Regions from separate parts of the Homo sapiens genome. Here region 2 is linked to region 1. Evidence: fine-mapped expression QTL. Tissue or cell type: whole blood. Region 1 holds a variant in brackets; the other region holds the start of a gene. All regions are shown on one strand. Distances are from middle to middle.

Region 1 (10,892 bases):
ACAGGCGTGAGCCACTGCACCCAGCCTTTTTTTGTTTTTGTTTTTGTTTTTAGACAGAGTCTTGCTCTGTCACCAGGCTAGAGTGCAGTGGCGCAGTCTTGGCATGCTGGGATTACAAGCATGAGCCACTGCACGCAGCTTTTTTTTTTTGAGACAGAGTTTCGCCCTTGTCACCCAGGCTGGAGTGCAATGGCACAATCTCAGTTCACTGCAACCTCCACCTCCTGGGTTCAAGCGATTCTCCTGCCTCAGCCTGCTGAGTTAGCTGGGATTACCAGCCCTCTACCACACCTGGCTAATTTTTGCACTTTTTAATAGAGATGGGGTTTTACCACGTTGGCCAGCCTGGTCTCAAACTCCTGACCTCAGGTGATCCGCCCGCCTCGGCCTCCCAAAATGCTGACATTACAGGTGTGAGCCACCATGCCCGGCCTCTTCATGCCCTTTTCATTGGATAGAAATTTGAGCTTCTTGAGACCATCAGCAGTATGGATTTGGCCAGGCATGGTGGCCCACACCTGTAGTCCCAGCTGCTTGAGAGGCTGATGCAGAAGGATCACTTGAGGCCAGGAGTCTGAATTCAGCCTAGGCAACATAATGAGACTCTGACTCTAAAAAATTAAATTAAAAACAAAAACACAGTATGGACTCACAAAATGGAAGTACCAGTGCTAAGTAGACTTAATAGGACCGTCTTGTTCATTCTTTTAGGCCATACTGCCCATTAAAATACTACATTGTCTAACCATTCTCATCCATGGGTAGATTATACCCAACCTCCCTTTCCTATGATTGTTTGAGGGGTTTTTGCTTTTGAGATGGGGGATCTTGCTCTGTCACCCAGCTGAAGTGCAGTGGCGCAATTATGGCTCACCAGAGCCTCGAACTGCTAGACTCAAGTGATTTCCCCCATGTCAGCTTCCCTAGTAACCAGCACTACAGGCGTGTGCCACCACACCTGGATAATTTTTTAATTTTTTTTGTAAAGATGAGGTCTCACTTTGCTGCCTGTGTTGGTCTCAAACTCCTGGCATCAAGCAATCCTCTAGCCTCAGTCTCCCAGAGTGTCAGATTACAGGCGTGGGCCACTGACCCAGCCCTAGGATCTTTTATTTTCTGCTTTCTGACTATAGCTATACCTAAAAACCCTTTGCCTCCTAATAAGCTGGGTAGTAAATAGGTTTCATCTTCCTAAGGATCACCTTCAGTCAGTTGACGAATTTTTTTGTTTTGTTTTGTTTTGTTTTTGTTTTTGTTTTGTTTTGAGATGGAGTCTCACTCTGTAGCCCAGGCTGGAGTGCAGTGGCATGATCTCTGCTCACTGCAAGCTCCGCCTCCTGGGTTCACGCCGTTCTCCTGCCTCAGCCTCCTGAGTGGCTGGGACTACAGGCACCCGCCACCACACATGGCTAATTTTTTGTATTTTTAGTAGAGATGGGGTTTCACCATGTTAGCCAGGATGGTCTCGATCTCCTGACCTCGTGATCCACCCACCTCGACCTTCCAAAGTGCTAGGATTACAGGCGTGAGCCACCGCACCTGGCCCAGTTGATGAATTTATACAGAGCTCAATTGTAGATTCTAAGGTCACATGTAGGCCTAAGGAATAGCAAGTCATTTTTGAGACAGGGTCTCACTCCCTCACCAAGGCTGGAGCATAGCAGTGCAATCCTGGCTCATTGTAGCCTCGAGCTCCCAAACTCAGGTGATCCTCCCACGTCAGCCACTTGAGTAGCAGGGATAACAAGTGTGCACCACCATACCCAGCTAATTTTTTGTAGTTTTTTATAGAGATGGGGTTTCACCATGTTGTCTAAGCTGGTCTCGAACTCCTGGCTCAAATGATCCTCCCACCTCAGCCTCCTGAATAGCTGGGACTACAAGTGCATGCAGGCTACCACACCTGGCTTAAATTTCCTTTCTTTCTTTTTTTTTTTTTTAATTTTGAGACAAGGTCTTGCAGTGTCACCCAGGATGGAGGCTGAAGTGCAGTGGTGTGATCACAGCTCACTTCACTGCAGCCTTGACCTCCTGGGCTCAAGTTCAAACGATCCTCCCACCTCAGCCTACCAAGTAGCTGGGACTGTAGGTGTGCACCACGACACTCAGCTAATCTTTTTTGGTTTTTTGTAAAGACAGGGTCCCACTATGTTGCCCAGGCTGGTTCTTGAACTCCTGGGCTCAAGCGGTCCTTCCACCTCAGCCTCCCAAAGTGCTGGGATTATAGGCATGAACCATCACACCCAACCCTTAAATTTGTTAAGTTTATTAATTATCTTGCTGTCCCACAAAAGTTCTCTGTGTTCCTACTTCATCGACCCTGTGAAAAGCAGCCCTGTGCTTCATACTCTAGATGGCATCTCTCAGCCTCTGCCCCATACATCTTTTACTTGGCTATCATGTGGATATAAATTAAATCCTGTGAATACGTAACATCTCATAGGATGTAGAATGCAGAAATGCAGTAAAGACCATACTTCTGTGCCTCTTGGCTATTGTTGCTGTCAAAAAAGGTCATGGAACTACATCAGTTTTCCAGCATCCGTTGTCCAGCTTCATAGGTTGAGAGAGAAGTTGTTACAGTCAAAGCATCTTGCTTCCAGCAGAGCTGTGAAGGAGCCTCAGAGACTGTAGGTCACCTATTGGAACATGTATGCATTATTCCTGGAGATGTTTCTGGAGGCCCAACCTAGTATCATACTTTCAGCCTCTCTAGTGATTTTCTTTTTCTTTTCTTTTCTTTTCTTTTTTTTTTTTGAGATGGAGTCTTACTCTGTCGCCCAGGCTCAAGTGTAGTGGCACGATCTTGGCTCACTGCAACCTCCACCTCCTGGGTTCAAGTGATTCTTGTGCCTCAGCCTCCCAAGTAGCTGGGATTATAGGCACATAGCACCATGCCTGCCTAATTTTTTTATTTTTGGTGGAGACGGGGGTTTGCCATGTTGGCGAGGCTGGTCTCAAACTCCTGGCCTCAAGCAATCTACCTGCCTTGGCCTTCCCAAGTGTTGGGATTACAGGCTGAGCCACCACGCCCTGCCTCTCCAGTGAATGAATGAAAAGCACCTCATTTTCCATATCAAATCTTTTGCACCCTGGAGAGATAGTTGGTAGTTGGATTAAAGTTGTGTGCAGATATCATGGCAAAAAGGATGTGTAGTCAGGCTGCCATCTCAGAATTTTGACAATTTTTTTTTTTTTTTGAGACAGAGTTTTACTCCTGTTGCCCAGGCTGGAGTGCAATGGCGCAATCTTGGCTGACTGCAGCCTCCGCCTCCCGGGTTCAAGCAGTTCTCCTGTCTCAGCCTCCCGAGTAACTGGAATTACAAGTGCCTTACCATCACACCCGGCTAATTGACTTTTTTTTTTTTTTTTTTTTTTGAGACAGTTTCACTGTGTCGCGCAGGCTGGAGTGCAGTGGCATGATCTCGGCTCACTGCAACCTCCGCCTCCTGGGTTCAATCGATTCTCCTGCCTCAGCCTCCCAAGTAGCTGGGACACAGGCACCTGCCACCATGCCCTGGGGCTAAACTTTTTTGTATTTTTAGTAGAGACAGGGTTTCACTATGTTGGCCAGGCTGGTCTTGAACTCCTGGCCTCGTGATCCGCCCGCCTCTGCCTCCCAAAGTGCTGGTATTACAGGCGTGAGCTACCGCACCCGGCCTAATTGACAATTTTATCCAAGTTTTTTTTTTTTTTCCCTCTGTGGGCCTTAGCTTCCTCCAACCTCATAAACCTCTCAGTTTTTGTGGGCCAGGAATTTGGGAAAGGCTTGGCTGGATAGTTCTGATTCAGGGTCTCTTATGCAGTTGCAGTCAGATGGTGGCTCAAGTTGAAACAGCAGGGAAATGGAGCATCTGGGAGCTAGAGCTGAAACAACAGCGGGGTGGAGCCTCTGGGGGCTGGCCAGACATCTCTCTTTTCATGTGGTGTCAGGAACTCTCCATGTGGTCTTGATGCATGAAATAGTCTGGGGTTTCTCACAGCTTGGTGGCCTCAGAGCAGTCAGACTGCTTACATGGTGGGCAAAGGCTTTAAAAGCAAACATTCCCAATTTGGTTCCCTTTTATAATTTCTACTTTAATGTGTTTATGTTGCTTAGTGGTCAGATTAACTAGGGATTCAACAAGATCTTGTTCTAAACACCTGGAGCCTATAAGCCCTTGATTTTGTATTGTTGGATCTGTGTGTTGGTAGGGAAGCATAATCAAAGTTCAAGTCATTTTGAGATCTACCCTTCCCACGAGGTCCTTTTGCATCTCTTTTGTGTGTGTACGCAGCCTCAGGGTGGCCATGAGTATGTGGCTAACTTGGGCCCTCTCAGGTCTCCGCTGTCACACAGTCTCAGCCAGGAACACACTTGCCCCAACCATGAGCACACCTCCGGCCAGTGAAGCCTTTCACTCTTCCTGCTTACTGCCTTGGAGATCATCATTTCCATCAACAATATTGCTACATGTAAAGGAAATCAAGTGATTTCCTTCCTTCTGTATGGAAGCTATTTGTTTTCATGGCTAGCACCTTCTTGCCAGAGTTTCTACACCGATTGCAGGAAGGGCTGAGAGCAGCCTCACCTGAGCCTGGGAAATTGAGGCTACAGTGAGCTGACATTATGCCACTGCACTCCAGTGTGGGCACTGCAGCCTGGGAAACCCTGAGGTTTTGTTTGTTTGTTTGTTTTTCCCCATCTGGGGAAAAAAAAAAGCCGCTGATTCCTACTGTTCTTACCTGAAGTTCAGCAGTTTTGCAAGCACAAAATTGCTCTCGGATTGTTAAGTCCCTTTGGTTAACTTCCAGAGTGCTGAAGTGGTTGGTTTTGTCAGTTTTGTCCGGTTTTGTCAGTTTTGTCCTGTTTTATTGTTGCTTCTGCAGGAGATCTCCTCACTCTGCCTTGGCCAGAAGTTCCACCCTGTACTCACTTTGTTTTATATTCAACTTCGCTTCCTCTGCCTGACTTCAAAATTGGGAGGGTCCCAAGGCTCAGTCTCTGAACCTCTTTCCTTCTTCATCTACGCTAGGCAATCTCTTCCAGCCCCACAGTGTTCAATATGATTGATATACCAATGATTCCCCATTTATATCTCCAGCTCTGACCTCCCCCTTGAGCTTCAAGTGACTGACAGATCTGAATCTCCAACTCATCTCCACCTATATATCTGATAGACTACTCACACTCACATAACGAAAAGTCTTTAATTTTTCCTCCAAGGCTATCTTCCCCTAGTTCTAATCTATTCACTTGTTCAAGTTCAAAACCTAGGAGTTATCCTTGACTCCTTTCCTTCCTTCACTCCCACCCCCACATCCAGTCTAAGAAATCAGATGTCAAACCTATTGCCGGAACATAATTCCAAATTCATTCACTTTTCTCCATCTCCACTGACAACCTGCCTAGTCCAAGCTTCCATCATCTATTCTCTGAAGACTACAGCAGCCTTCTCCTTGTTCTTTCTGCTTCCATTCTTGTCCCCATACAGTCTGTTGACAACAACTGTCAGAGTAATCTTTTCAAGGGCAAACCAGATCTTGTCACCTCTCATTACACTAACAATAAAATCCGTAGTTCATACTGTGGCTTATGGAGCCTTATATTCATTCAACATCATCTACTAGGCCTCATGCTGTCTCTCCAACTTAATTTCCTACCATTCTTCTCTCATTCACCATATTCCAGGCATAGTGGGCTTCTCTCCATTCTTTGAACATGGAATATGCCAAACTCATCCCTGCCTCACAGACTTAATACTGTTTCAGGTTGGAACACTCTTTTCCTGTAAGCCTTGTGGCTGACACTTCCCCATGATGATTTTTTTTTTTTTTTTTAAATTTTCAGAGTCAAAGTCTTTCTCTGTTGCCTAGGCTGGAGTGCAGTGGCACATTCACGGCTCACTGAAGCTTCAAACTTCTAGGCTCAAGGGATTCTCCCACCTCAGCCTCCTGAATAGCTAAGACTACAGGCATGCGCCACCATGCCCAACTACGTTTTTTTTTTTTGT[G/T]TGTGTGTGTTTTTTAATTTTTGTAGAGATGTGGCTCTCCCTGTGTTGCCCAGGACAGTCTGAAACTTCTGGGCTGAAGCAATCCTCTTGCCTCAGCCTGTTGAGTTTCTGGGATTATAGGTGTGAGCCACCACAACCGGCCCTGTGATGGTCTTTACTAACTCTCCTGCCCCGTCATTCTCTACCCCGTACTCTGCTTGTTTTCATAGCATTTCTAATTCTCTGTCATTGTCTTGCTTATTTTTTACTTTATACCCCATCTTCTTTGTTGGTATGGCCCCCAGCACTAAGTGCAGTGTTGACACAAAGCACGTATTATAAATATATTTGTGTGGACTATGTGAATGTACTCTCTAAGGCCAGAGAGTGCATTCCAGCAGAGAGGTACATTTATTTAGCAGGTGCTTACCTGCCCTTGCTGTGGGTTTGGGAGTCTGATTCTGAATATGCTTGAAACCTCATCTCTTGAACAAAACAAAATCCACAATCTCCAGGTGAGGAAGTGATGACTGAACTCTGACCCCTGGGTATTACCTTCCCCATGTGGGTTTCTTATTGTGAGAAGCCTCTGACCCTCTTTTTTTTCTTCTTTTTTCTTCTTCTTCTTGTGTGTGTGTGTGTGTGTGTGTGTGTGTGTGTGTGTGTCCGAGTTTTGCTGTTGCTCAGGCTGGAGTGCAATGGCACAATCTCGGCTCACTGCAACCTCTGCCTCCCAGGTTCAAGTGATTGTCCTGCCTCTGTCTCCCAAGTAGCAGGGATTACAGGCATGCTTCACCACACCCGGCTAGTTTTGTATTTTTAGTAGAGATGGGGTTTTACCATGTTGGCCAGGCTGGTCTCAAACTCCTGACCTCAGATGATCCACCCACCTTGGCCTCCCAAAGTGCTAAGATTACAGGCATTACCAATCGTGCCTGGCCACCTCTGACCCTCTTTTAAAAGTTCTGGGCCAATTTTGTTTATAGAGTCATTTCTCTTGGTTTTTCAGAGCATAGCTAAGACAGGCAAGGTCTTTCACAAAAATTTACCATTTAAAAGAAAAATGCAGAAATAAAAAGAGATCATTAGGGGCAGAAATACAGCCCTTCTGCCTAAAAGGGCTGACATAGGTAAGCTTTAGATTTTGTGGATTAAGGAGAGACATCTTAAAAGCTCCCCACCAAGAACCTCTTCCAGGGCATCGACTTTTTTTTTTTTAAGACAGGGGCTTGCTCTGTTATCCAGGCTGGAGTACAGTGGCACTAACATGGCTTGCCATAGCCTTGACCTCCTGAGCTCAAGCAATCCTTCTGTCTCTGTCTCAGCCTTAGCCTCCCATGAAGCTGGAACCACAGGCATGTGCCACCACCCCCGGCTAGTTTTTGGTTTGTTGGTGTGTTTGTTTCTATGTAGAGACAGAGTCTCACCATCTTGCCCAGGCTGGTCTCAAACTCCTGGGCTCAACCCATCCTCCCACCTCAGCCTCCCAAAATGCTGGGATTACAGGTGTGAGCCACTGTGCCTAGCCTTGACCACTTTTTGGCTGAGACCAGGAGATTAAAAATGTGGGCCTGCCCTCCTCTCCCAGTTTTAGACTCTGCCTCTGCCTCTGCCTCACATTGCCAGCGCCATGATAGAACTCATGCCTTGGCCGGGCGCGGTGGCTCACGCCTGTAATCCCAGCACTTTGGAAGGCCAAGGTGGGTGGATCACGAGGTCAGGAGATCGAGACCATCCTGGCTAACACGATGAAACCCCGTCTCTACTAAAAATACAAAAAAATTAGTTGGGCGTGGTGGTGGGTGCCTGTAATCCCAACTACTCGGGAGGCTGAGGCAGGAGAATGGTGTGAACTTGGGAGGCGGAGCTTGCAGTGAGCCGACATCATGCCACTGCACTCCAGCCTGGGTGACAGAGCGAGACTCCCTCTCAAAAAAAAAAAAAACAAACAAAAATGAACTTATGCCTTGGGAGAGATTTTACCTCCTCTTCTCTTCTCAAAAAGGTAAGACTGTTCTCCAGGCACAATAATTTAAGCACAGGTTAATACCATGTTTCATATAGTGTGGCACTTATATAATACGTTATGTGATTTTATTTTATTTATTTATTTAGAGACAGAGTCTAGCTCTGTCACCCAAGTTGGAGTTAGTGGCACAACCTCAGCTCACTACAACCTCTGCCTCCTGGGTTCAAACAATTCTCCTGCCTCAGCCTCCCGAGTAGCTGGGATTATAGGTGCCTGCCACCACACCTGGCTAATTTTTGTATTTTTAGTAGAGACAGGGTTTCACCATGTTGGCCAGGCTGGTCTCGAACTCCTGATCTCAGGTGATCTGCCCACCTCGGCCTCCCAAAGTGCTAGGATTACAGGCGTGAGCCACCACGCCCCACCCTGTTATGTGATTTTAAATGTTTCAAAGTCAGATCAAGAACAATGAGAAAAGTATTCCTTTTTCGAGTCTTTCAGTCCTCCTGATTCTATCTGGGAAGAAGTTTCAGTTGGGTGCTACCATATCTTAAAACCTCTCAGCACAGTTGCTGTTCTCTTCTTCCTGGGGAATGCTCCAAGCCTCATTTTTATCATATTTATTTTTATTGGTATCTGCTTAAGTTTATGATCTAAAGATTCCTTTTTAAAAGAAGTTCCTAAGTAAAGAAAGTTGGCATACATAAAATTATAAAATAAGTAATAGTGTAGGTGGTGTGAGAACACAGCATGAGTCACGGTGGCAGTAGGAAAGGCTGGCTGAGGTCTGCCAGTGTCCTAGTATGGCATCCCATCATTCAGTGCCTGTGTTTGAGGCAGGGTTCAAAGGCAGTGCTGTTGAGGTAGTGTTTGTCAACTCAATGATTTCTTGTTTTCCCCTCTATAGTGGAGCACATGATCCAGAAGAACCAATGTCTCTTCACCAACACCCAGTGTAAGGTTTGCTGCGCCTTGCTTATTTCTGAGTCCCAGAAGCTGGCACATTACCAGGTATGCCATCATACTTTTAGAACTGCGTTTCTTTTCAGACCTGGTGCCAAACCACTAATTCTCTCTGGCTTGCATGGTGAAGTGTAATTGCTGCTTAGCCACCCAGATGTTGCCTCCATGCATGTTGGCTTGTGACTTGAAGATTGACTTAATCTCCTTGAGTCTCATCTCCCCCATCCAAATCAGGATCATTATATGTGTATCTTCCCTTGCAGCTTGGCATAGCATAAAGTATGAGCTTTGGCTTTAAATAGATCTGACTTTAAATCAAAACTCTGCTACTCATCTTGAGCAAGAAACTTCATCATTTTTAGATGTAGTTTCCTCATCCATAAAATAGAAATGGTCATAATTTTCTCATAGATTGTGAAGATTAAATTTGGTAGCTGTAAAATGCCTTGCACAGAGCAGGAACTCAAACTTCCCTCACCTCCTCCTCAAAACTTTTTGTGAGGATGAATCAGATGAAAATCTCATAAGTGTTTTTGAGTGCCTTAAGTATGAAGTAGCATTTGGCTATCTTTGATCTTTCTCCTGGGTTTTTGCAGAGCAAAAAACATGCCAACAAAGTGAAGAGATACCTAGCAATCCATGGAATGGAGACATTAAAGGGGGAAACGAAGAAGCTAGACTCAGATCAGGTAATACAGCTGCCATATTGAGCCCACTTGCTTCATGATGAAGCCAGCCAGCAGGTTGGTGTGGTGAACAAGTCAGACTGTCTTGGCTTCAAATCCTGGCCCTGTTGTGTGACTCGGGCAAGTCTATTACTTCACAAAGCCTTGATTTCTTCCTCTATAAAAATGAGGATGGTAATATCAACTACCTTTCAGGATTTTTTAGAACTAAAATTGAGGGCAGATTTATAAAAAGCACCCAATTCAGAGCCTGGCACATAGTAGGGACTCAGTAATGGAGCTGGTATTACATATTACCGCCTAGTGGTTTGTTAGAGCAAGACAAGAGAAAATGGAAAGAAGCCAGGCTGCTTGCTTTCTTGAGGGCCAAGGAAAAGAACTAAGTTCAGCACTTGAATGTTTTGCATAAATAAGCAGAAGGAACACCTTTCCAAATGTCTGCTGTGATTGAGAGGTGATCACATGTGCTTTTTGGCTCAGAAATAATATGAGCATTATGCTGAAGCAACCCCCAATCCCTCAGGAGTACCATCTCATCATGGGAAGAGAAGTTAAGCAGACTAGGGCTCAAAGCTGGCTGTGTGTCTTACTGATCGGGTGAGTTTGGCCAAGTCACTTAACCTCTGTGAACTTCCCCCATAAAGTAGAGATAATGCCTACTTCTTAAGGGTATTGTGAGGTAAAATTTCAATTCCTAGTAGATGCTCAATAAATAAGAGTTTACTCTATAGACTGCTACCTCCTATTATAGTAGCCACAGGTCAGGAAGGTCCTTGTTTATCTCTTCTCAAAATTTACTGGACTCATCCCCTGGTTTCCCTTATTATTTATTTATTTATCCCTGGTTTCCCTCCTTTCTATTTCTCTATCTGTCTATTTGTGAGACAGGACCTGGCTCTGTTACCCAGGCTGGAGTGCAGTGGTGCAGTCACGGCTCACTGCAGCCTCAACCTCCCAAGCTCAAGTGATCCTCCCACTTCAACCTCCCAAGTAGCTAGGACTACAGGCACACACCACCACGCCTGGCTAACTGGAGTGCAGTGGCACGATCTCAGCTCACTGCAACCTCCACCTCCTGGGTTCAGGCGATTCCCCTGCCTCAGCCTCTGAAGTAGCTGGGACTACAGGCACGCGCCACCACACCCAGCTAATTTTTGTATTTTTAGTAGAGATAGGGTTTCACCAGGTTGGCCAGGCTGGTCTCAAACCTCTGATCTCAAGTGATCTGCCTGCCTCAGCCTCCCAAAGTGCTGGGATTACAAGTGTGAGCCACTGCGCCCAGCCGCCTGGCTGATTTTTTAA
Region 2 (9,852 bases), 49 kb after region 1:
GTAGGACTCCATCTTGGGGGTAAAAAAAAAAAAAAAGAACAAGACTGGGCCCAGAGTTAGGGCCAGGCCCGGGCTGCAGTGGGGCCTGGGCAGGGGCCGGGCCGGCTTTAGTGGCAGCCCTTCTGCACAAGAGCCCCAGTGTTCCCTGGGCCCGGCTGCCATCCAAGAGCAACATCGTTGGCACCAGGCAACGTCTGCCCTCTACCCCCCGATGACTCTGCCCCCAGGCAGGTGGGGGGTAGGACCTGGCCTCAGGAGACCCTCCTGGCCCAGCCCAGCATTCCAGAGGCACAGAGTCTGCAAACCCCTGCCTGGGCCTGGTGTCTCCTCAGGACTGCTGGCTAAAAGGTCAAGGAGTGCAGTGCTCAGTCCCAGCCCCCACACCTCCCTCCCCAACACACTCACCTTCAGGTGAATCTGCACCTTCCCGGGCCACAGTTAAGGATGGAGACAGAAAGCATCTGATGCAGTAGCATCAATGATCCCACTCTGGAGAGTTATCCCGAGCTCTCCATCTTTGCCCCAGAAGACAGGGGTTCGAGTTCTGCAATTCACTTGCTAGATGACCTCAAATAAGTAATTCCATCTCCCTGAGCTTGTTTCTTCACCTACAAATCAGAGCTAAGGATTCCTATGCCATTTGGCTTGGTGGAAGAATTAAAGGATATAACCCATGTACAACACCCAGCATGATGCCTGGCATGTAACGGGAGCTGAAGAGTCACGAGCTCAGGAACAGGAACACGTTCATTTCCCCCAACACTCCTAGGAAGAAAGAAGCTGGAGCAGCCGGGAGCCGTTGCTCACGCCTGTAATGCCAGCACTTTGGGAGGCCGAGACGGGTGGATCACCTGAGGTCAGGAGATCGAGACCAGCCTGGCCAACATGGTGAAACCCCGTCTCTACAAAAATACAAAAATTAGCTGGGTGTGGTGGCAGGCGCCTGTAGTCCCGGCTACTAGGAAGGCTGAGGCAGGAGAGGCAGGAGAATTGCTTGAGCCTGGGAGGCGGAGGTTGCAGTGAGCCAAGATCACGCCACTGCACTCCAGCCTGGGCAATAGAGCGAGGCTCCATCTCCACAAAAAAAAAAAAAAAAAAAGGAAGAAGAGGAAGCTGGAGCATGACGGCTTTCTGGGTGGGGAAACTGAGGCAGAGGCAGGTTAACAGCAGGATCTTAGGGTGACAGGCTCTTGCCTCTGCTAAGCGAGAGAGAGAGAGAGAGAGAGTGTGTGTGTGTGTGTGTGTGTGTGTCTGAATGTATTTTTTTTTTTTTTTGAGACAGGGTCTTGCTCTGTTTCCCAGGCTAGAGTGCAGTGCGTGATCTTGGTTCAATGCAACATCTGCCTCCCAGGTTCAAGTGATTCTCCTGCCTCAGCCACCCCAGTAGCTGGGATTACAAGCGTGTGCCACCATGCCTGGCCAATTTTTGTATTTTTAGTAGAGATGGGGTTTTACCATGTTGGCCAGGGTGGTCTCGAACTCCTGACCTCAAGTGATCCGCCCACCTCAGACTCCCAAAGTGCTGGGATTACAGGAGTGAGCCACTGTGCCCAGTCGTGTCTGAATGTCTTTGAGAAAGAGACTGCAAATGTGACTGGTGAAAGATTGCGTGTCAGCAAGAGAGTGAGACAGTGTGAAAGGCTTAGGTGCTCTCCCTGACTGGCTCAGCTTATCTCCCAGGCTGTAACTGATTACTTATCTGTCTGTCCCCACTACAATGTCAGCAGCCCCTTGAAGGGTAGAAGTAGGGTCCAGGCCAGGTGAGGTGGCTCACATCTGTAATCCCAGCATTTGAGGAGGCTGACATGGGCAGATAACTTGAGGTCAGGAGTTTGAGACTAGCCTGGTCAATATGGTGAAACCTTGTCTCTACTAAAAATATAAAAATTAGCCAGGTGTAGTAGTGCACATTTGTAATCCCAGCTACTCAGGAGCCTGAGGCAGGAGAATCACTTGAACCCAGGAGGCAGAGCTTGCAGTGAACTAAGATCACACCACTGCACTCCAGCCTGGACAACAGAGCAAGACACTGTCTCCCAAAGAAAAGAAAAGAAAAAGAGTCCAATTCGGGGCTTTATCCCCAGGATTTAAAACAGTGGATGCCACATAATGAACCTTCAATAAATAATCATTCAGATGAATGAGTGAATGAGTGAATGACTTTGTGAGGGAGCATCAGCCTCTGTGGAGGGTCAGTGTGAAAGGTTATGAGTGCGGGGAGAGGAGGCAGACAAGGGATATGGGGAACATATCCTAGGGACATCAGAGGGTTGCAAATCTGAGGGATTTGCGCATCTCAGGAGACAAGGAGGTTGCAAGACCTGAGCTATGAAAACTTTTAGTTTGTCTTTGGCTCTGGTAAACTCAGGAAATGCCCGGGAAGGTGAATGAAAGCCATGTGGGGTCCAGCTCCAGCTGGCGGCTCACCCTGTCTCCCCCCACAACCACATTCACAAGGGGAGCCAGCAGAGGGCCAGAGGCAGGGAGCTGAACCCCTCCAGCAGTCCGGGAGGTCTGGCAAGGTACCCTCTGGGCAGGCAGCTCCCAGGGCCAGGAGCCTCATCTGTCCTGGGAGCTCCAGCAAGGCAGGACTCTAGAGAAGGGAACCAGGACAAATTGTTTTTAAAAGATAACCAATTAAAAAAAAATTTATAATATACATATATATGTGTGGGTGTGTCTGTGTGTATGTATATACACACAGACACACAGACACACACAGACACACACACACACACACACACACACATATATATATATATATATATTTTTTTTTTTTTTTGGAGACAAAGTCTCACTCTGTCACCCAGTCTGGAGTGCAATGGCACGATCTCGGCTCACTGCAACCTCCACCTCCCGGGTTCAAGCAATTCTCTGCCTCAGCCTCCCTAGTAGCTGAGATTACAGGCACATGCCACCATGCCTGGCTAATTTTTTTGTATTTTTAGTAGAGCTGGGGTTTCACCATCTTGCCAGGTTGGTCTTGAACTCCTGACCTCGTGATCCACCCACCTAAGCCTCCCAAAGTGCTGAGATTACAGGCGTGAGCCACCGTGCCCAGCCTAATATATATTTTTAATAGAGACGAGATCTCACTATGTTGCCCAGGCTGGCCTCGAACTCCTGAGTTCAAGCGATCCTCCCGATTCAGCCTCCCACAGTGCTGGGATTATAGGCATGAGCCACCATGCCTGGCCTCAATTATTTTCTGATTTATCTTTGGGAGGAGACCATTCTTTCGCTTAAGAAGAAAAAGAAAAAAACAATTTTAAGTCTCTTTAATGGGCCTTACAGTTATGCAAAGATATGCCACTATCCCTTTGGGAGTGAGGGTGGAAAGAACTAGACTTGCCTGCGTAACAATGAGAAAGGAAGTTGCTTCTTAAGACAGGGTCTACACTAGCTAGAGGGGACAACCAGGACCTGAGCCTCAGACAGGGTCTCGCTCCATAGCCTGTTGCCCAGGCTACAGTGCAGTGGAGCGATCACGGCTCACTGCTGCCTCGACTTCCTGGGCTCAAGCAATCCTCTGGCCTCAGCCTCCCAAGTAGCTGGGACCACAGGTGCACCCAGCCCATTTCCCTTCCTCTCAAGGTGCCTTAAGAGAAGGAGAAGGCTTGAGATTCAGGTGAGGGATGGGCAGAGATCAGAGGCTGCCTGGCCTCCTGGTTTGGCCACAGTCTAGATGCTCAGGAGAGAAGTGCTTACAGGTGAGGCAAACATGAGCCAGGTGGGCACGGAGCTATCTGGGAGCACCTACTGTATGCCAGACACTTGAACTCTAATGGTGAGGTCTGAGGACACAGTTCCTCTACTGAAAAATAGAGACAGGGCAACTATGTTGCCAGGGCTGGCCTCACACTCCTGAATTCAAGCTGTCCTCCTACCTCAGTCTCCTAGTAACTAGAACTACAGGCACCCGTCATTGTGCCCGGCCATTCCACAGCTATTTACATAATTAACTGTTCAGTTACAATTCTGGCAAGCGTGCTGAAGAAATAACAGGTCCTAAATAATTACAGCTAGTATTACAAAGCAAGCGCTGCATGCCAGGCTTACACATACTGCTAACATGTCTACTTTTTGCAACAACCTCTTGTGGGTGAGACTATCATTTGCCTGTTTTACTGAAAGGACAGTGAAGACTGAGGCCTTGTGTGATGGTGCTGAGAGCTGGGCCTATGACGTCCAGCCCTGTAGTCTGTGCTCTGAACCACTTCACCCTGTTTCTTTCTCCATCCTCACAGTAGAGACGTCATCTAAGAGGAGCTTGCAAGTCCAGAGGGCTTCCTGAAGGAAGTGAGCTGAGAATAATATGAAATTAACCAGACCAAGGGCCATTCCAGGAAGAGAGAATGGTACGTGAAACTGCCCAGGAGTAGCAGGGTGGGAGCCAGGAGGCGTGGGTCATGGCAATCTATGTATAAAGAGCTATGGGAATCTATAGGAAAATTTAAGGGAGTGGCTGACACAGTCAGATTTGTGTTGTAAGTATCACTCCGCAGGTTGCGCAGGGAACAAATGAGGGAGCAGAAGGAAGGGGTTCTCCTATCCGCTGCACGGCACTGCGCAGAAGACAGGGGAGCCAGGCATTCCCTGAAGGGTGAAAAGCAAGGAGTAGAGCTGGGTAGTAGACTAGAATTTAGGAGCCTGGCCTGGGGCCTGGGTGGGGCGAAAGAGGCGGAGCCTGAATGGGGTGTGTATAGGGGGGTTGCGTGTAGGGGTGTGTGTATAGGCTGGGGCGGGGTCCCGGGAGTGGGCTGACTGGGTCGGGGGCGGGGCTCTCCAGGTGGGCGGGGATCTTGGCCACCCCTGGCCACACCTCTCTCCGGCTCGAGCTGGTCTAGGCGGGGCGGGCCCGAGGGGGTGTGGCAGGAGGTGGGCGGGCCCGGGTGGGGGGGGGGGGGGCGTGGAAGGAGGGGCGGGCCCGAGCAGGAGGGGGCGGGCCCGAGGGGCGGGGTGGGACAGGAGGTGGGCCGCTCGCGGCCACGCCGCCGTCGCGGGTACATTCCTCGCTCCCGGCCGAGGAGCGCTCGGGCTGTCTGCGGACCCTGCCGCGTGCAGGGGTCGCGGCCGGCTGGAGCTGGGAGTGAGGCGGCGGAGGAGCCAGGTGAGGAGGAGCCAGGTGAGCAGGACCCTGTGCTGGGCGCGGAGTCACGCAGGCTCGAGGTGAGCCGGAACCCTTGTGGGCCCGGGCTGCGCTCCCAGCCGCCAGGGGGCGAGAGGCGGCGGGGCTACGGGGACTGCCCCTCCCGGCGCAGGGGACCTGGGCGTCCGCCGGGCGGCAGGGGGTGGAGGGGGCGGTAAATCAGTAACCCGCAGTGCACACAGGGCCTTTTGTCCCGCTCCGTCCAAAGAGCACCCCGGCCGCGGAGCTGGTTACTCATTGCCCACCGAGGCGGGGGCAGGCTGGCCCTGTGCAGCTACCCTCGGGACCCATTGATTCGCACCTCCCCCCAGGCTGGCCCGGCAAGGGTGGGGGAGGACAAGCGCGCTTGTCCCTGCGGCTGTCTTCGCGCCGGCGGCAGAGATGAGGGACCTGAGGCCCCGAAAAGTTCAGTCACTTAGTGCCCGGGGGCCTCCAGCGCGAGTGCGGGAGGCTGAAGGAGAACCCAGGACTGTCTGATGCCTAAGGCAGGCCCTCCATTCCCACGTGGGGGGTGGTCGGTCAGCGGTCAGCAGCCATGGGTGACTCGACTAAGGACTCTGATATCAGGGCAGCCTGGGGTAGGAATAAACTCCCCGGGCCTCCCCACCCACTCCCAGCCCAAGCTGTGTACCCAAAGAGCTGCCCTCCCTGCCAAGCCGAGCTTGGTAGGGAGTTTTACCAAGGAGGATCCGACTGGATTCGAGAGTTGAGGTGGGCCAGAGACAGCAGTATCTGAGTCAGGTAGAGAAGAGCAATGAGGGGCACAGAGGGATGGGCAAGAGAGCACATGTGCCCAGTTTTGAAAGCCAATGGCTTCAGCGCTCCTGAAGGGGCAGACGGTGTGACCAAAGAGATAGGCAGCGGCAGAGAGGGAGCCCTAGGATGTTGAGCTGGATCCTGCTGGGCACAGGTAGCCATTAAGGGCTTGCAAGCTGGGGGGCATGACATGGCAGACTTGCAGGTTTTTTTGTTTGTTTTTTTATTTTATTTTATTTTTTTATTTTGTTTTTTTTGAGACGGAGTCTCACTCTGTCGCCCAGGCTGGAGTGCAGTGGCGCGATCTCGGCTCACTGCAAGCTCCGCCTCCCGGGTTCGCGCCATTCTCCTGCCTCAGCCTCCCGAGTAGCTGGGACTACAGGCGCCCGCCACCGCGCCCGGCTAATTTTTTGTATTTTTAGTAGAGACGGGGTTTCACCGTGTTAGCCAGGATGTTCTCGATCTCCTGACCTCGTGATCCGCCCACCTCGGCCTCCCAAAGTGCTGGGATTACAGGTGTGAACCATCGCGCCCAGCCGACTTGTAGTTTTTTAAAACTCTGCTGGAAGATGAAGGTTGAAGAGCCGAGGGAGAGGATGTTTCCAGAGGCCCATGCAAGAGATGGCCATGACCTGCCTTGAGAAGGGGCAGGGGAAGCCAGATGGACTGGAAGTGGAGTGGCAGTGACCAAGGAGGAGGAGGTGTGATAGGCTTCCCACGCAGGGTAGATCCAGAGACACCAGTGCCACCCATAGGCCCCTAGGACTGCAGTGGTCACCGATTCCTTTGTCCCAGCTGAGACTCAGTTCTGAGTGTTCTATTTTGGGGAACAGAGGCGTCCTTGGTAGCATTTGGAAGAGGATAGCCAGCTGGGGTGTGTGTACATCACAGCCTGACAGTAACAGCATCCGAACCAGAGGTGACTGGCTAAGGGCAGACCCAGGGCAACAGGTTAACCGTTCTAGGGCCGGGCACAGGGAGGAGAACATTCCAACACTCTGCGTGCCGACGCACGTTCTCTCTTTTATCCTCAAAACAGTCCTATGAGGATAGTAAGCCAGAGAGAGACAGAGACAAGGAATTACAAGTTGGTGAGAGTCAGGATTTGAACTTGGCTCTGGCAGATGGAAAATTAGGGTCTGTATTCTTTACAAAACCGTGTGTGCCTCAGATGGAGTTGGTGCATAACAAGCAGAGGTATCCAGGGTCGCGGTCCTGCTTGCCACGGAAGGGGCCGCCTTGTCAGTTGTGACCACCCAGCCCTGGAAATGTCAGTAATGCTGTAAGGAGTGGGGATCGGATCAGATGCCATCCAGATGCTGAAGTTTGACCTTGTGTCATTTTTCACTTTCTTTTTTGGCTCTTCTGCAATCAATTCATTTATTTAGCAAAAAAGAAATTATGTGTGCCGAGAGCATGCAGAAGATATGTCTCCGTTCTCTGCTTCCCTCCAAAAAAGAATCCCAAAACTGCTTTCTGTGAACGTGTGCCAGGGTCCCAGCAGGACTCAGGGAGAGCAGGAAGCCCAGCCCAGACCCCTTGCACAACCTACCGTGGGGAGGCCTTAGGCTCTGGCTACTACAGAGCTGGTTCCAGTCTGCACTGCCACAGCCTGGCCAGGGACTTGGACACATCTGCTGGCCACTTCCTGTCTCAGTTTCCTTATCTGCAAAATAAGGGAAAAGCCCCCACAAAGGTGCACGTGTAGCAGGAGCTCTTTTCCCTCCCTATTTTAGGAAGGCAGTTGGTGGGAAGTCCAGCTTGGGTCCCTGAGAGCTGTGAGAAGGAGATGCGGCTGCTGCTGGCCCTGTTGGGGGTCCTGCTGAGTGTGCCTGGGCCTCCAGTCTTGTCCCTGGAGGCCTCTGAGGAAGTGGAGCTTGGTATGGCTTCTGAGGTGGGAGAGGGTGGCAGGGGTGGGAAGAGTGGGCACCAGGAGGGGGCTGCTGGGCTGAGCAAAGCTGGAAAGGATCCTTGCCCAGGCCCTGAGAAGGTGGCGGCAGGGCAGGGCTCAACCACTGAGACTCAGTCAGTGCCTGGCTTCCAGCAAGCATTCATCTATCACTGTGTCTGCGAGAGAGGACTGGCCTTGCAGGGCGCAGGGCCCTAAGCTGGGCTGCAGAGCTGGTGGTGAGCTCCTTACCTGGGTGTGTGTGCGTGTGTGTGTGTGTTCTGTGCACTGGGTGTGTGACCTAGGAGGTCCAGGCAGCATGTGTGGTATAAGCATTATGAGGGTGATATGCCCCGGTGCAGCATGACCCTGTATGTGGCACCAACAGCATGTGCCTTGTGTGTGTGTGTGTCCGTATGTGTGTGTGTGTATGCGTGTGTGTGTGTGTGTGTGTCTTGGCCACTGTCGTGTGCACTAAATGCTGTGTGTGTGACATGCCCCAAGAGTGTGGCATTTGCCCTGGGTGTGGCATCCGCAGCATGTGGCTGTGTGGGTGTCAAGGAGTGGTGGCTCCTTCAGCATGCGTTGCAAAGTGCTTGTGCCCTGCATGTGCGGTGTGTTCTTTGTACACAGGAGGCTGCCTCAGATGGGGCTGCGGGGTCTGCTGACCTCTGCCCTCTGCCCACAGAGCCCTGCCTGGCTCCCAGCCTGGAGCAGCAAGAGCAGGAGCTGACAGTAGCCCTTGGGCAGCCTGTGCGTCTGTGCTGTGGGCGGGCTGAGCGTGGTGGCCACTGGTACAAGGAGGGCAGTCGCCTGGCACCTGCTGGCCGTGTACGGGGCTGGAGGGGCCGCCTAGAGATTGCCAGCTTCCTACCTGAGGATGCTGGCCGCTACCTCTGCCTGGCACGAGGCTCCATGATCGTCCTGCAGAATCTCACCTTGATTACAGGTGGTAAGAGACTCTAGCAGGGAGTGAAGGGATGCCTGGGGAGACAGACCTGCCCCTCTTGGACCTTAGATGCTTCCCTCTGTCCCTGATGTAGACTCCTTGACCTCCAGCAACGATGATGAGGACCCCAAGTCCCATAGGGACCCCTCGAATAGGCACAGTTACCCCCAGCAAGGTCAGTAGGTCTCCAAGGACTTGTGTCCCCGCTGCTGCTCATCTGATCACTGAGAAGAGGAGGCCTGTGTGGGAACACACGGTCATTCTAGGGGCCTTCCCCTGCCCTCCAGCACCCTACTGGACACACCCCCAGCGCATGGAGAAGAAACTGCATGCAGTACCTGCGGGGAACACCGTCAAGTTCCGCTGTCCAGCTGCAGGCAACCCCACGCCCACCATCCGCTGGCTTAAGGATGGACAGGCCTTTCATGGGGAGAACCGCATTGGAGGCATTCGGGTGAGTCTCTGGGTTCCAAGACCGTCTGCTCCCCCATTTTCATTCCTTCATCAGTCCCCTCATACCTACAAGCATACCTATAAATCAATCGAATGAGTGAAGCGATTGCGGGGCCCCGGAAGGAGCCCTGGACTGTGGACCTGGGCAGCTCTGGTTCCCCTTCTGCTACTCTCTGGCAAGTGACTTAACCTCTCAGCCTCAGCAACTCCATTTGTAAAGGGAGAAGAATCACTGACTGGTTGGTCTGCATAAGCCTTAGCATCTCATCGTCTTGATGAGACCCTGCAGGGTCGGCTCCATGCTGTCATGAGGCAACTGAGTCTCAGAGAAGGCAAGGGTTGGCTCAAAGTAGCACAGCTAGGGAGAGGGAGAGCTAAAATTCCAAAGGCTCAAACCCAAGGCTCAAGCGCCCTGGGGAGCCTACTCCTTTGTGCCATAGTCCTTGGCCTGGGCCTGATGTTCTCAGGGCCTAGAGAGCTTGACAAGAGCCCTGTGGGCAGGATGAGGATCTAGCCTCCTGGTCCTCTGGCCCCCTTGGTGGACATGGTCCGGTGGTCCCGGACACTCTCTCTGCCTGCAGCTGCGCCATCAGCACTGGAGTCTCGTGATGGAGAGCGTGGTGCCCTCGGACCGCGGCACATACACCTGCCTGGTAG

Evidence for each region. PIP is the estimated chance that this variant, and not a neighbour inherited with it, causes the effect.
Region 2: it holds the start of FGFR4, and the variant in region 1 is fine-mapped to the expression of FGFR4 in whole blood (INTERVAL, PIP above 0.99).

Annotation. Positions count from the first base shown.
Region 1 is chr5:177,032,278-177,043,169 of GRCh38, forward strand. ZNF346 (zinc finger protein 346) reads left to right here. Exons shown (of 7, transcript NM_012279.4): 2 at 8,849-8,952; 3 at 9,501-9,593. Among named protein-coding and RNA genes, the nearest start is that of ZNF346, 15 kb to the left of the region's middle. RefSeq lists a silencer at 6,413-6,462. The variant G/T (reference allele first, on the strand shown) is at 5,994.
Region 2 is chr5:177,081,909-177,091,760 of GRCh38, forward strand. It overlaps FGFR4 (fibroblast growth factor receptor 4), which reads left to right and starts at 5,007. Exons shown (of 18, transcript NM_213647.3): 1 at 5,007-5,169; 2 at 7,642-7,785; 3 at 8,482-8,745; 4 at 8,837-8,917; 5 at 9,030-9,196; 6 at 9,777-9,852. The coding sequence starts at 7,695. RefSeq lists silencers at 4,618-4,667, 4,918-5,377, a promoter at 4,888-5,107 and an enhancer at 5,073-5,523.